Linked DNA regions of Homo sapiens: region 2 is linked to region 1. The links come from fine-mapping of genetic effects on gene expression. A gene starts in region 1. The other region holds a variant in brackets. All regions are shown on one strand. Distances are between the middles of the regions.

Evidence for each region. PIP is the estimated chance that this variant, and not a neighbour inherited with it, causes the effect.
Region 2: its variant is fine-mapped to the expression of IREB2 in blood mononuclear cells (TOPMed, PIP above 0.99). The same link has a PIP of 0.9 or more in T cells.

Annotation. Positions count from the first base shown.
Region 1 is chr15:78,434,562-78,443,055 of GRCh38, reverse strand. It overlaps IREB2 (iron responsive element binding protein 2), which reads right to left and starts at 4,840. Exons shown (of 22, transcript NM_004136.4): 1 at 4,700-4,840; 2 at 3,175-3,261. The coding sequence starts at 4,718. RefSeq lists a silencer at 4,386-4,625 and enhancers at 5,096-5,155, 5,226-5,305.
Region 2 is chr15:78,495,515-78,504,008 of GRCh38, reverse strand. IREB2 (iron responsive element binding protein 2) reads right to left here. Exons shown (of 22, transcript NM_004136.4): 21 at 6,698-6,883; 22 at 2,556-5,976. The coding sequence ends at 5,866. Among named protein-coding and RNA genes, the nearest start is that of HYKK, 7.8 kb to the left of the region's middle. The variant A/G (reference allele first, on the strand shown) is at 3,824.

The DNA of each region.
Region 1 (8,494 bases):
GTGTCTACTGAGGGTCTTGGAACATATCCCCCATGAGTAAGAGAAGACCTTGATTATTCCATCTTTCAGCCTTCTTGAAGCTAAGAGTGGCCACTGATACTTTGGCCAAAGAGGCAAAAGCCCCTGGAGAGGGCTTTTATCATGGTTATAAAAACTGGTAATTCTGGAATTATGTTAAGTACACATGTACTCTGTACAGTTATGTACAAATTCCCATGACAGCTTATTTCCCAGGGAAAATTTAACTTGGACATAATGCCTGGAGGTGCAACCAAAAGAATAAAAACAGAACGGGAAGAAAGGACGAGCCTAGATCCTTGCGGAGATTGGTGCTGCACAGCCCCAGTCTGCCAATCTCCACACTTCGTTATGTTAGAAAAATAAACTCGTATTTCTTAAAGTCATTGGACAGCAAGTTTTCAGTTCTTTGCAGCTGCAGGCATCCCTGACATAGTCAGCATGGAGCTTAGAACAGTGTTTCTCAACTATCTTTACTCTGTAACATTTATGAGGGATAGAATCCATTCCCTTCATTAATCGTTACTCATTACAACAGTCATTCTCAACCTAGCAGGCATCAAAATGTGGAATGGAGGTGGAGAAGACTGGCTCTGTACCTTGGTGACTACCAAAGCAATGTCTTCTTGTAAGCATATGTCTAGGAGGCAATTCAATCTGATCCTTTCAAAAATGCAATAAGGATTTTTTGTTCTAAGGTTAAACAACCAAATACTTCCTACCTAACTTGTTCCTTTCTTTCAAAGTCAATTCTTCAAATTTTATTCCTTATTAGGAAATTACTTAAGTAATTATTACTTAATAACCTCTCATAATAAGCACTCTATTAAAAAAGCAGGAGGGGCTGGGCGCAGTGGCTCACTCCTGTAATCCCAGCACTTTGAGAGGCTGAGGTGGGTGGATCACTTGAGGTCAGGAGTTTGAGATCACCCTGACCAACATGGTAAAACCACCATCTCTACAACTAGCTGGGTGTGGTGATGCACGCCTATAGTACCAGCTACTTGGGAGGTTAAGGCACGAGAATCGCTTGAACTCAGGAGGCAGAGGCAGCAGTGAGCTGAGATCACACCATTGCACTCCAGCCTGGGTGACAGAGCAAGATCCTGTCTCAAAAAAATAAGTAAAATAAAATAAAATAAAATAAAATAAAAACCAGGGTACTGACCCCACATAAAAACCAACTTTCTGTTTTGAAAGTATTTATAGTCACAGGTATTCTATTATTACATTTATCATGGTTATAAAAACTGGTAATTCTGGAATTATGTTAAGTACACATGTACTCTGTACAGTTATGTACAAATTCCCATGACAACTTATTTCCCAGGGAAAATTTAACTTTCAGATTATCAATCATTCCCTTTCAATGCATTTTACAGTTGTTTTTGACAGTTTCCTACTGATTCCTTAAATTTGAGAAATTTAGGTCATCTTCCTTCAAGTAAGCACATTTCTACAGATTATACACAGAAAGTATTTATACTCAATTTTCAAAACATCTTATGTGCTCCTTTAATTTATTAAACTATGAAATTTGGGTTAAAAGACTTCCAAGCCAGTATCACTAGATTATTTTGGAGAAGTAAATGGGAAATAAAATGACTATTCTTGTAAACGATCAATCTAGCTGTTTCTTTTCAAAATTAATGCAAACTCACCATCAGTGAAGGGATAAAATTAATGTGAAAGACATACATTAAGAAAATGACCAACTTCCTTTAACAAACGTATCAACACAAATCACTGCAGCTAAACATGCAAGGTAAAGGATATTGCTCTCATTTTGGCAAACTGTTTATTTTTAAATGACAGCCTAATTCTAAAATGGGGATTCTTTAAGATACTCCAAAATAGCTGTATTTCACAATACACAAAAAATATTGCACATAGCAGTCAAGAATATTTAAATTCCTCAAAATCTACAGAAAAATCACAAGAACAATCGTCTTAATTAAATAATGCAAGAAAAAACAAGATTAAAGCTCCTTCCAAAACTGACTGCAACAGATGTGGCATTCAATTTATCTTTTCATGTCATTGTCATGGAAAAGTTCACAAAGAATAATGAGTCTTCTAAAGAGGTCTCTCTATTGGCCCAATTGAGAAAGTTACTCAACTGTTAGTAAAGTCAAAACTTCCATTCAATGCCCTATAGGTCGCCCACATTCACTCTTCTGAGACCACAGAGAAAGGTTTGACCCTGATAAGGTCAATGAGAATGTCTGCCAAAACTGCAGGTGTGTAGGTTGGGGCAAACCATGCCCAATACTTCAGAAAAATTCAAATCAATGGGTCCTGTTGGTGATTCCTATTCAACAGATGGCAAAAAGAATAGATGTGGGCACTGTTCATTTGACAAAGTAAAACAGGCCAGGCATAGTGGCTCAGGCCTGCAATCCCAATACTTTGTGAGGCTGAGGCAGATGCATCACTTAAGGTCAGGAGTCTGAGACTAGTCTGGGCAACACAGCAAGACCCCAACTCTACAAAAAATATAAAAATATGTTTTTATATAAATGTGTTGGCATACACCTGTAGGCCTTGTTACTTGGGAGGCAGAGGCAGGACTGCTTTAGCCCAGGAGTTCAAGGCTGTATGAGCTATGATCACAACACTGTGCTCTAGCCTGGGCAACAGAGCAAGACTCTGTCTCAAAAAAAAAAAGAAAAGAAAAGAGAAAATAAAATATACATTTAATTGGTGTAGAATTATCATCAGTCAGTCAGGTTCTTCTAAAAATCACATTAGGCCAGGCGCAGTAGCTTACATGTGTAATCCCAAAACTTGGGGAGGCAGAGGTGGGAGGATTATTTGGGCCCAGGGGTTCAAAACTAGCCTGGGTAACATAGCAAGACCCCTGTCTTCACAAAAACAAGAAAAAAAAAAGTTTGAAAACTGCATTATTGGTTTCTTTGAGGGGAAAAACTAGTGCTTAATTAACTTAGATTTTTAAATGAGAAGTTAAGGTGTGGGCCTACATCTTCCCTGAACAGAAGTTGTCCCAGGAGGAGTTTTTAAAATGGTATAGGTATGTGTAGGTGTACCTGTTACAATACGGTGGAAATACATTTAAAATTTCTTCAGCTCAGCTTGACAAATGCATTTTCATTATTAGAGACTAAACAAACCCAAGAAAATGTAAAGCAACATTACCATACTTGGTGCCAAGTTTAGATACATCGAAGAACTTCTTATGTGAACTGTCATTTAATGTTTCAATAAGGTACTCAAAGGCGTATCCTGAAAAAAAAATTGTATTTTCATTAAATGCAGCAACAAAATATTTTATTCAGCTGAAAATACCTGGAAACTAGCTTTATCCAATAGAATTTTCTGCAATGGTAAAAATATTCTATGTTTGAGCTGTCCAGTAAAGTAGCCATTAGCAACGTGTGGCTATTGAGCACCTGAAATGTGGCTATCGTGCCTGAGGAACTGAATTTTTAATTTATTTAATTTTGATTAATTTAAAGTCACACAGGGCTAGTATCCACCACACTGGAAAGCATAGTTCTAAACCATAATTTGTCAAGTAAAAACTAGTAAGATAATTCACTCCTGAAATGTGATAAGAATACCTGGAAAGGGACAATAAGAATGATTTAAATAATCCACGGGGACGTTTTGGAAAGACATGTCTTGAAAACTGCAGAGACAGGAATTTGTGAATTCCACAATTAACATTAGAGGGACTGATTAAAAAAAAAAACTAAAAGACGGATTTTTACAGAGCATTCAATAAACCAAAACAAAAAAACTTCTCAGTTAAGTCCTTACCAGGGCTTAGTACTGAAAATAAAAGTAACAGAATCTCTAGGAAATTAGCATATTCTACCCGAAAGAGACAAGTCTTCTGGTTTTGCACGAACTGAAGCTGAACTACTAAGTCAAAGATCCAGAGGTCTCATTTAAACGTGCCTCAGCTCCCAACATTCTAGGGGGCAGTGGCGGGGAGGCAGCCCTGAGGTTGAAAAGAACCTTCAGATCTTTTGTGCAGACTCATAGCGGTGGGTGGCCAGGACCCTCAACATTGTTAAGGCTTTCATCCAAAAGGAGAAAACATAAGCACAGCCCATTTTCAGAATGAATAGTATTTTTTTCTCTTTTTTTTTTTTTGTAGAGGGAGGTGGACGGGGGAGGAGACAGCGGTGCAATAAATGGTCGGAGAACTGACTGACCAATGTTCAACCTTGACTGCCCCTCATTCGGCTTCCAGAGGCACAGAGAGACTGAGGGGCCTTAGGCTGGACCGTGGAATCAACATCTAGCTGCGTGAGACCCGAACACGGAGACGCAGGCCCCCGCCTTCATCGCTCGCCAATGGGGGGCGGGCAGGAGAAGACGGTGGGCCTCTCCCTGCCCCTGGTGTTGCTGACGGGGGCCAGGAAGCCGCTGGCAGCAGGCAGCGGCCACCGGAGAGAGAGGGGTGCGGGTCAAGGCCAGCGGTGGGGTGGCCCGCCCTGCGGGTGTCGCGCAGGAGGGTGGGGATCGGGAGCCCCAGCTTCCGCGGCCTAGGCTCAAAGGGCGGCCCAGCAGGCAGGCCCCGAGGGGAGCACAACCCGAGCCCCGAGGGCCTGGGCGCCTGCCGAGCGACTCCAGGCGAGAAAAGCAAGGAATTCGGCGCCTAGGCAGCGCGCGTTTCCAACTGCCAGACCCAGCTCGGAGGCCCGAAACTGACCTGCTTTTGGGGCGTCCATCGCCGGAGACCATATTATCCCTCCGGGGAGGGGGCCAGCGGGGGAAGAAGGGGGAGGCCGGGCAGGGAAGACGGGGAGGAAGACAGGCGGACTGGCAAGGGAGGAAAGAAGGAAGCAGGCTCGCGCAAATATCGCGAGAGCAGCAGAGCCAGCCCCGGGTCTGCGCTCGCGGGATTTGTCGCCTAACTCCCGCGAGATCGTCGGACAGGAAAACAAAGAAAGGGAAGGGGCGGAGCTAACCAGAAAGCGATTTCTCGCGCCGTCGCCGCTGTTCTCGCGAGCGGGGGCGGAGCGCTGGGGAGGCTCCAGTGGGGGCGTTGGCGTGGCTAGTTTGGCCTTCGCAGCGATCCGTTACTTAGTTGCGGCCTTAAGTTTTCTATTGGGGTCATGAATTCGAGCGGTGTTTGCGTTCCCGCAAGGTGTCTGTTGGAGTCAGGGTCGGAATCGGAACTGCTAGGAGAAAGAGCTCAAGGAGAACCGCTTTCCCCTAACTATAAAGCCTTGCATTAACTTGTCAGACGTGGGCGGCCCACACGCGTGTTTTCAAGTGGGGGCGGCCATACTGATCGGGCGCGTGGGAGGCGCTCAACTGTTGAATGAATGAATTTTTTCTTACCCTCCGGTAGCTTCCGTGATTGCCGACTTCTTCCCAGTGGCAGTTAACACATGCTTAAGCCTCTCCATCCTTCCGCCTCAGCTCCTCCGGTCCCTGTGTTCTCCACCTACCCAGCATTATCTCCTGTCGCAGCAACTTACCAGAAAGAGTCGCTCATACTCGGCTCTCCCCCACCCACTTCTTATCCTCTTCCAGTCTGGCTTCCACTCCCAGAAATGCCTTTAGCCAAGGCCAGCTATAACTCCACTTTCTAATCTCACATATCTCAATCTTGACTGGTTCTCTCCCATTGTTGAAAAATACTCTTCCATCAGCTTCTGTGACTTCAGACTCTACTTTTGTTTCTTCTCCTAAGGGTGCTTGATCTCAGGCTCCTCTGCAGACCTCTTCCTCCGCCCAGCTTTTAAATGTACTGGGCACTTGATGGGCACAGTAGCTCATGCCTGTAATTCCAGCACTTTAGGAGGCCAAAGTGGGAGGATGGCTTGAGCTGAAAAGTTCAAGACCAAACACAGCAACGTAGTGAGACCCTATCTCTACAAAAAAAATTTAAAAATTAGCTGAGTGTGGTGGCATGCACCTGTAGTCTCAGCTACTCAGGAGGCTGAGGTGGGAGGATCACTTGGGCCCAGGAGATTGAGGCTGTGGTGAGCCATGATTGCACCACTGCACTCCAGCCTGAGCAACACAGCAAGACCCTGTCTCAAAAAAAAATATATTGGACATTAAATGTGTCCCAGGGCTCTGGCCTTGTACCTCCTCCCTCTGTCCATTTTCCCTGGCCCATCTCACACTTCCTTTGACTTCAGTTATTAGTTAATATGTTGATGCTTCCCAGTCTGCCTGTGACCTGAGCCTATCTCCTAAACCCGGAGGTGTATATCCTAGTACCCATGGGATGCCTCCACATCCCAAGGCACCTCAAACTAAAAATCTCCAAAACTGAACTCGTCATTTCCCTCCTTAAACCTACTATTCCTTTTGTATTGCCTGTATTAGCGAATGGCGCCACCATCCACCTGGTTGCCCAAGCCAGAAATCAACACATTATACCTGACTCCTTCATCCACTCCCTTTAATCATTGATCCAAGCCCTGTCAACCCAAACTCCAATATATTTCCTTTATTCACCTTGCTATATTTTGTAACATCTCCTTTACAATCCCAGCATGAAATTCATAGGTAATATAATCTACATACACGATAAATAATCTACTTAATGACCTAACTGTAATATAAAGGAGAAAAATAGGAAAGTAATTTATTAGAAAATAATATGTATTATAATACGTAGCTGCACAGGCATGTCTATATTAGATGACAAAATTGAGTAGTCAGATGCTTGTATCTATTTATAACGAATGAGTTTGGTTTTACAGGACATATAATATTCGACTGGGCCAGGCACAGTTGGTAGCTCAAGCTTGTAATCCCAGCACTTTGGGAAGCCAAAGCTGCAGGATCGCTTGATGCTAGGAGTTTGAGACTAGCCTGGGCAACATGGTGAGACCCTGTCTCTACAAAAACTTAAAGAGTTAGCCAGACATAGTGGTGCATGCCTGTAGTACCAGCTACCGTGAGACAGAGGCAGGAGGATCACTTGAGCCCAGAAATTCAAGATTACAGTGAGCTATGATTGTGCCACTGCACTCCAACCTGGGAGACAGAATGAAACCCTGTCTCAAAAAAAGATAAGGCCGGGGCGGTGGCTCACGCCTGTAATCCCAGCACTTCGGGAGGCTGAGGCGGGCGGATCACGAGGTCAGGAGATGGGAGATCATCCTGGCTAACACGGTGAAACCCCGTCTCTACTAAAAGTACAAAAAATTACCCGGGCGTGGTGGCAGGCGCCTGTAGCCCCAGCTACTCGGGAGGCTGAGGCAGGAGAATGGCGTGAACCCAGGAGGCGGAGCTTGCAGTGAGCCGAGATTTCACCACTGAACTCCAGCCTGGGCAACAATGCAAGACTTCGTCTCAAAAAAAAAAAGATAATATTCAGCTGAATATGGTCAACACTTTTTATGTCTGACATTGCAAAATAAGGATTCAATATATACATACATATCATGCATAAATATATATTATGAATGCATATATGGTAAATGCACATATGTATAAAATGTACATATATATCATGAATGGCCTCTAAAGACTAATGAAAATATGTTAGTGACTTAAATATTGGAAGTGTTGTCACTATTGTGATTTTCTGAAATGGTGAATAACTCTTGATAAAGTTCAAAACAAAAAAAAAAAACCTTTGCTTTTTTTATGCAATAGTTGTATTCCTAGAAAATTCCGTATATATTAAAACCATACACAAATTACTTTTGTTTTTACTTGTATATGGGGTTAAACTCTAGGCTCAGATAATTATAAACAAATTTGTTGTTACTGTTTTTATGTTTGTGTGTATGTTTAATGTACTTGAATATCTGACAGTATGGGTCTTGTTTGATTCTTTTTTTTTTTGAGACGGAGTCTTGCTCTGTAGCCCAGGCTGGAGTGCAGTGACATGATCTTGGCTCACTGCAACCTCCGCCCCTCGGGTCCCGGTTCAAGCAATTCTCCTGCCTCAGCCTCCTGAGTAGCTGGGAATACAGGCACGTGCCATCATGCCCAGCTAAGTTTTATATTTTTAGTAGAGACAGGGTTTTACCATGTTGGCCAGGCTGGTCTTGAACTCCTGACCTCGTGATCCGCCCATCTCAGCTTCCCAAAGTGCTGGGATTACAGGCGTGAGCCACCGGGCCTGGCCCTTGTTTGATTCTTTGTTGTGTAATTCTATAGTGTGGAATGCAGGCAATCTAACATTCATTGAATCCCAAAAGTGCCCCATGATGGTGACAAACAAAAACACCCATTTTCTCAGTGTCCCGCTTCCACTGAGAAGCACTAACTTAGAACAATCATGATATGCTCCCGTGTGGCTGGACTCATTACTTTTTTTTTTTTTTTAACAGTTTTATTTACTTTTTGAAAATTTTATTTATTTTAAGACAGAGGTCTGTTTATTTGGCCTGGACCGATCTCAAACTCCTGAGTTCAAGGGATTCTCCCACCTCAGCCTCCCAAGTAGCTGGGACTACAGGCATATGCCATCTCAGTCAGCTTTAACAGTTTTATTGAGATTTAGTTTAAATATCATAAAATTTACCTA
Region 2 (8,494 bases), 61 kb before region 1:
CAGCCTGGGCAACACAGTGAGACCCCCACCTCTATTTTTATAATTTTTTTAAAAAAGAGCTCAGCGATAAAAAAAAAAAAAAAACAAAACTGGAGTGAAACAAAATGAACAATTTGCAGTGAGATTATGGACATGATTTTACATTATAAAACAATGTCTCATAAAACAATATCCCAGCAGTTTTATGATACTTCCTTTATATATTACAAGTTGTTTAAAATGCTCAAAATTGGCTTTAGTTTCCACGGTGGGCTACAGCTAAAGCAGCACTTAGAGGAAAATTTAAATATTTACATTTACATTGGAGGAAAAGTGTTACAAAGCTGGGGGAAAGGAGGAAATTAAATAAGTAACAGAAAGGAAATACTTCAGAGCAGAAACCAATAAAACAAAACAAACCGGGCACGGTGGCTCATGCCTGTAATCCCAGCACTTTGGGAGGCCCCGGTGGGCGGATCACAAGGTCAGGAGTTTGAGACCACCCTGGCCAACATGGTGAAACCCCGTCTCTACTAAAAATACAAAACAAATTAGCCAGACATGGTGGCGCATGCCTGTAATCACAGCTACTCGGGAGGCTGAGGCAGGAGAATCACTTGAACCCGGGAGGTGGAGGTTGCAGTGAGCCGAGATCGCACCATTGCACTCCAGCCTGGGCAACAGAGCCAGATTCCGTCTCAAAAAGAAAAAAAAAAAAAAAAAATCCAAAACCAAAACCAAACAAAAAACCAGAAAACAATGGAGAAAATAATGTAAAAAATTGGCTCTTTAAAAAATTAACTCAATTTCTAACCCTTTAGAAAGACTAATCAAGGAAAAAAAAGAAAACACAAATTACCAATATTGGTAATAAAAAGGGACCCTGCCACAGATCATATAGATATTGATAGGGAAATACTGAAAAAAATGCTTAAAATTCAGTACTAACACCACATAAACACAAAATTCACAGTGACAACACACTTATTTAAAAGACAGGGTCTTGCTGTCACCCAGGCTGGAGTGCAGTGGCATAAATCATAGCTCACTGCAGCCTCAACCTAGGCTCAAGCGATCCTCCTGCCTCAGCCTCCCAACTAGCTGGGACTACAGGTGCACAGCACCACACCAAACTAATTATTATTATTTTTTAAGAAACAGGGTCTTGCTATGTTGCCCAGGGTGGGGTCAAATTCCTGACTTCAAGTGATCCTCCTGCCTCCTGCCTTGGCCTCCCAAAGTGTGAACCACCTCGCCTGGCCACACTTGTCATTATACCAGCAAATTTTGTGAGAATTACATATGCATCTGCTTTTGCAATAAATGCATTTTTCAAGTACAGAACACAGGTTTACAACATACATCAAATCAAAATGGTAAATCTGAAGCTACTTTGTAATTAAAAAGCAAAATTAGCATCAAGTGAAAACTGTAAACCAACTAAATGCTACACTGATGAAGCTCTTAAGTTTCCTCCTAGACTGCATATTCAAACTATCAGCTTGTGCCTATGTTGGTATTAGCCTTTAGGTAATGCAAACTTCTTAGAATACTAAATTGGAATCCTTAGAAAATTCTAATAAAGTGCCAATTATGGTTTATGATTACTGAATTCTAAGAAATAAACCTTACTCTTTTAGGTTGCTAATAATAGTGGGAAGAAAGGATACGTCTTTTTGGATGAGTGTCCCCGCCCAAATCTCATGTCGGATTGTAATCCCCAGTGTTGGAGGTGGGGCCTGGTGGGAGGTGACTGGATTATGGGGGTGGTTTCTTATGGTTTAACACCATCCCCCTTGGTGTTGTCCCAATAGTGAGTTCTCCTGAGATCTAGTTGTTTAAAAGTGTGTGGCACCTCCCCTGTCTCTCTGTTCCTCCTGCTCTGGCCACGTGAAGTGCTTGCTCCCACTTAATCTTCCACCTTGATTGTAAGTTTCCTGAGGCCTCCCCAGAAGCCAAGCAGATGCCAGCATCATGCTTCCTGTACATCCTGCAGAACCATGAGCCAATTAAACCTCTTTTTAAAATAAATTACCCAGTCTCAGGCATTTCTTTATACCAATGCGAGAACAAACAAATACACCTGGGATCCTGGCTCCCAGCTTCCGATGACTTGTTTCATGAACACTAATGAACGGGCAGCACAGGGAGCAGGCATCCTCAGCTGCTCCTGGATGGCATCTGGATGGCGGGACATTTCATTTTTGCTTTTTTTTTTTTTTTTTGAGACAGAGTCTCACTGTTTCGCCCAGGCTGGAGTGCAGTGGCGTGAACTCTGCTCACTGCAAACTCTGCCTCCCGGGTTTATGCTATCCTCCTGCCTCAGCCTCCCAAGTAGCTGGGACTACAGGCGCCCGCCATCATGTCCGGCTAATTTTTTTGTATTTTTAGTACAGACAGGGTTTCACTGTGTTGGCCAGGATGGTCTCGATCTCCTGACCTCGTGATCCGCCTGCCTCGGCCTCCCAAAGTGCTGGGATTACAGGCGTGAGCCACCGTGCCCAGCCGGATGGCAGCATATTTTTTACATCATGTTGTTTTATTTTCAACTACTACAAAACAGAACAAGAATCAAATGTGATAATACAATTTTCTTTATTAAAAATAATTTACAGCATCAGTAACATATACACAATTGTCATCAACTGAACTTTGCCTCCAATATATTTCTATACAATACTTAACATTATTGAACTTAAAACTGTTACACTGTTTTGTTGGCTTTAAATAATAGACAATGATTTTTGTCTATTACTTAGTGATAGACAAAGTGATTACTTTGTTACTTAAGTGAGATATATGGTTTCATAGCCACATATTATGTGTAAAATTGATAGAAACGTCAGCAATATCACTCTTTAGGGGAAAAAACACTGAAAAGCCAAAGTCCACCCTCTTCTTCTCTCTTATTACTCCAACCAAACTAAGATAGGATAAACATCCAGTATCTTAGTATCTCCTCCTAAACCTAAAGACAAAAGAAAGGTGTCTTCTATTCAACCACAGAAAAATGTCAAATAATTTCTTCTCATCCTCTCACTCATCACTGTGAAAGCAAATGCACACGACCTTGTTACCATATATGCAGGCAACTATGATTCTGATTTAGGTCCTAGCTTTACTTTCCTTTAGTACAACTGTTGTTTGATTACCAACGAAAAACTAAGCAATCTGGCTAGAGGGATACTAGTACCTTCTTTCAAATGTCAGCATGGAGATAAAACAAAATAGTGATAACTGTCATCTTAGAAACTTTTTAGATATAATAATGGCAATTCAGTGGCTGGATGACATTTCCATTGATTCCATTGTATAAGAGTAGCAAAACCCCAAAATATGAAAATGGCAATGATATGTAGCATAATGTTTTCAAAGTATAAAAAAAACCCTGCTGTTGGTAGTGACCTTTGAAATTGTACTTTAAGCTTACAACACTGATTTGCTTTTCTTGTGTGTCTGACATTACACTTCCTTTTTTTTTTTTTTTTTTTGGTAACACAAAATTACCCAAGGTATAGTAAACAAAGAAGACACAGACAATAAAAACTAACAGATGCCACATTTTGCAAACATAGCATTTGGCTAGAGGCAGAATTATAAGGTATACATATTAAAACATACATCCAAGACTCTCCTCCTCAATTTGAAACCATGTTTATCAAGTTTTTACTTCATTGTATATAAGCCAAAAAATTAAGAGAACCTTGATTTGTTCCTGAAATACAAGATTTGCTTGTATTATTACTGGACCAGGTAGACTGGATATGTGAATGTTTAATTCATAGTTAGCTAGCTTTACCATCATCTCCTGAATCAGCTGCTGAGGATGCCTGTGCCTCTGCCC[A/G]TAACTATATATAGAGTATGCTTTCAAAACAATATAGGCCGGGTGTGGTGGCTCACACCTGTAATCCCAGCACTTGTGGAGGCCAAGGCGGGCGGATCACGAGGTCAAGAGATTCAGATCATCTGGCCAACATGGTGAAACCCCATCTCTACTAAAACTACAAAAATTAGCTGGGCGTGGTGGTGCATGCTTGTAGTCCCAGCTACTCAGGAGGCTGAGGCAGGAGAATCCCCTGAACCCGGGAGGCGGAGGTTGCAGTGAGCCAAGATCGCGCCATTGCACTCCAGCCCAGCCACAGGGCAAGACTCCGTCTCAAAAAACAAAACAAAACAAAATAGATTTGTTTCCCCCTGCACAATCTGGAATTACCATTTCTTCAGAGCACATACAGGCATTTCATCTTTCAACCTGTAATTTCTCCTAACTCATGTTTTCATGTAAATTAAAAACACATGCACTAACAAATAAATATACAGCATATATCAAGAACACAATATAATTTGAAAGTGTCGAAGAAAATACTTATACAAAATTTAAATAAAGAAATCATTTTGTCGAACTCTAGTCCATCTTATTGTCTAAACACATATTTGCAAAATATTTTCAAAAGATTGTATGATTATGTGCAAAGTTCTTAGTGGTCTTCATCCACTGGTTTGGTAGTTTCAGCATTTTGCTTACAACAAGTAATTCTTTATGCAATGTGAACTAATTCTGAATTGCAGTAACTAACTAGGTCATAGAAAGATATCTATGTGAAAAAAAATCACTACAATTAACCTTTAGCCTGCTAGACTTAGTTTCTTAATTAAAAAAACAGTATAGAACCTTCTATAATTAATTTTCCAACCTTTTTAAAAAAAATTACCAAACATCTTGTTGACAGAACATTTGATGTGATGGGCAGACATGCATATTGAGGATATATAGTACTCAGCAACAACTTAAGTGTTTTATCCTTACGGTCAGCTTTGGTTAAAACAGTAACATAACAAAATTAATAGAATCATGCATCGCAGGTGATAAATGATTCAAAATGACAGGAAATCAATTTAATTAAGAAATAGCAACACTTAAAAAATGCATAGGGTTGAGCACCCGTATTATTGAGGGTGGATAATTTAAATGTATAGAAGAAATCAGTTCAGAGTTTAATGATTGAATAACATTCTCTTTAGCAACTATGAGTGTGAAATTTTGGTTAATGATACCGAAAATATTAGGTTATAGGAAGTTACAGTATTACATAAGGTGAGCAAAATAATCTAATCCAATTAATATAACGCCATCTGGGGGCTTGCCAGACAGTCACAGTGGCAAACTGCTGAAATATGAAAGGCTGCATCATATGTGATACATATTCCCACTGCTAATACATGGTGCCACACAATCAGTTGTATCCTGCCATGGTCCATCTTCATATGTGGAGGGAACCTTGGCTGGATTGGACAGAATGATTGTGACCTGGGGCAGGTTCCATCCCTTGCAGTTAGACTAAGGATAAACCTGGTTATATGACAAACTAAGAATGCCAAATGTGTCCAGCTCAATTCTGAAGAGGAATTAATATACTTAAAAGGTCCATTTATAAATGAGATTCCAATGGCCACAATTTTAGAGTCTAATCTGGCTTCTTATATTTCAATCTGCTACTCTTAAACCAACAAACAGTAGTACACAGTTTTATTGGTGCAAAACTAAACAAATCCAGGAAGGTTATTCATATAAGAATCTTCAACACAAATTCTGCCTTTATTTACAAAATGGTCTGATAAAATATCGCCCCCCCCCCATACTTACAGGTCTCTTCCACAACACACTTCACACGTTGATTTTAGCAATATTAATAGCACCATTCGTATATTATTTAAAATCAAGAAGATTTCATTTCAGTTACTATGTTGATTCATCATCATTTACATCCATGGATGAGATAAGTGAGTATACTGGGACTATCTGCTGCTCCATGGTAAGGATTCCTGGGTCCAGCACAAAAGGCTTTGCAGTTACCAGTTATGAAAGGTATCTATGGTAAGTAGATACTATGAGAATTTTCGTGCCACAAAGTTTAATAATCCTCCATGTTTGTATAATGTTATTTCCACATCATCTTCAAACGAAGCAATCACGCTGAATACTTTTCCAGTGCTTGTCTTGAAAGGAGCAAAAACATCTCATGTGAGCAAGTAAATCTTCCAGGTGCTACTTGATGGTTAAGACCATTTGTCTTCATATTTAATGACTATACTTGCCACAGATTCTGTCTGATTTATCTTGGTTCTAATTTCTTATATTCTGATTGCCTGAAACTTTGCTGCTGCTTGAAAAACACCTGAGATACCTGACCATGGGCTTCATAGTTAAGTAGAAAAATAGCTGCATTTAGATTTTGACTTATTAATTGGGGAAGTTATACTCACTACTCACATTCATTTTACACCAAATATTGATTGCATGTAATCAGTAACTCCTACTCTTTCCCCTTTTTTCTTAGTTGTAAAGTCTGTTTTGCTCTAACTTTGAACGCTCAACTTTGCTCTCTTTGGAGTGGTATGTATGCCTCGGTTAAAATTAGATCAGGACAGCAAAAAAATGACCACCATGAAAAGAAAGCTGACACTTGTTAAGTGGAAGTCAAGATTCCCCTTCATGTGTTCTTTTTTTCTGGTATAAGCACCCAGTTCTTTCCACTTTTCCTCAGAGAACATGAACTATTAACATAGCTAGATCTAAGTATGGAAGAGAGAGTCATCTTAAATGGCAACTTAACATTCATTAAGTGACATTAGTATATAATTTACAGCAATTGATTCTTATTCAATAATTCATAAACATTTGAGTGCATAATCATATATTTGAAAAATTTAGAGATACCTGTATATTCAATGTAATTCCAGGAGACAGTTCTTCAGGAAATGTTAAAGAAAATGTTTCTCTACCGGAGAGGCCCAAGGAATCTGCATTTTCTCCTGGAAGGAACTGAAGTGGAGCTATGCCAATTCCAATCAAATGATCTTTGTGTATTTTTTCATAACTTTCGGCCAAAACAGCTTTCACACCCTGTAATAAATGTGCATTTTATTCCCTCTAATCACTTCTGAAAGTTATTTATTGAGCATTTAAAGGGGGCAAAAATCTACTTTGGCCTTTCTCTAAATACTTTTAGTCTAATATCTCATACTGAATCAATATTTTATCAAAGTATTTACAGAACCTTCTTACAGATTATTTTTCTGAATTTTTATGGAGCTCTCTAAATTATTCGGATCCCTTTCTGCTGCTCTAGGGTTAAGTACTGCCGCTGCCTACCACATCATAAGAGCTCTATAAATGGGCCGGCTCCCTTGACCCCAAAGTAGGGCTCAGAAGGATTTCTATTTAAACATGCCAGATCTAACATATGTTTTCAACACTCTTGAAATGCCACTAAAATAAAGGAATAAAGAAGGTATATAGGGCCAGGCGCAGTGGCTTATATGCTTATAATCCCAGTACTTTGGAGGCTGAGGCAGAAGGATTATTTGAGGCCGGGAGTTTGAGACCAGCCTGGGCAATATAGTGAGACCCTGTCTCTACAAAACATAAAAATAAAAAATACAATAAAAAGTAACAAGAATAGGCTGGATGCAGTGGCTCACACCTGTAATGCCAGCACTATGGGAGGCCGAGGTGGGCAGATCACTTGAAGCCAGGAGTTTGAGACCAGCCTGGCCAACATGGTGAAACTCCATCTCTATCTAAAAACAGAAAAATTAGCTGGACATGGTGGTGCACACCTGTAATCTCAGCTACTATGGAGGCTGAGGCAGGAGAGTCACTTGAGGTTGTAAGTGGAGGTTGCAGGGAGCTGAGATCATGCCACTGCATTCCAGCCTGGACGACAGAGTGAGACCCTGTCTCCAAAAAATACAAATAAGTAACAACAATAATGAAGAGGGTATAAGCCCACAGCAACAAAGGGAATAGGATGAGAGAATTCTATGAATATTTAGAAAACAGAGATAGGTAAGTGATTTAGAAGACAATGCTGAAACCGCAGAATGATAAAATGAAATTAGAGAGTGATACCAGTAAGGTCTGAGTTAATGTGCAACACAAGACCCAGGAAAAGGATTGAGATTCAGAGGCATGAGGTTCTCAGAATACTCGTGGACACAGGTTACAAGGCCATACAAAGCAGTAAGATCCAGCTCAATCCCCACTCCACAAGAGTAGAGGTTTATTCTCTGGAAAAAATGAGCCAAAGGCTCTAGACTTGTGTTTTTCAACTTTTTTCTCCACTGTCTACCTAAGGAGTCTTTTAAGACTTTTTTCCCCCAAATTGTGTCTTCCTGTTCACCTCCCTTCTCTCCAAAATTTTAGTACCACAAAGATGCTGTGTATCTTTTAATGTACTCTTATCTGTACTTTATGTGCAAAAAGTAGAATTTTTTTTACCACCTGAGGACCAATTTTTGTTCTTTTTTACTCATTTTTTACAAATTTTTACTCATTTTTTGTTATAGCAGAAATAAGGAAGAGAATACATTCTCTAAACTGACAAACACTGGGCACAGGGGCTTGAGAATACCAGATTGAAAACAGGGGACTAAGTAGATGTCTACATACTGAACGAGTCTCTTTCCTTCAAGAAACTGAATGGCCTCAGAGAAAATACAGATAATGACATAT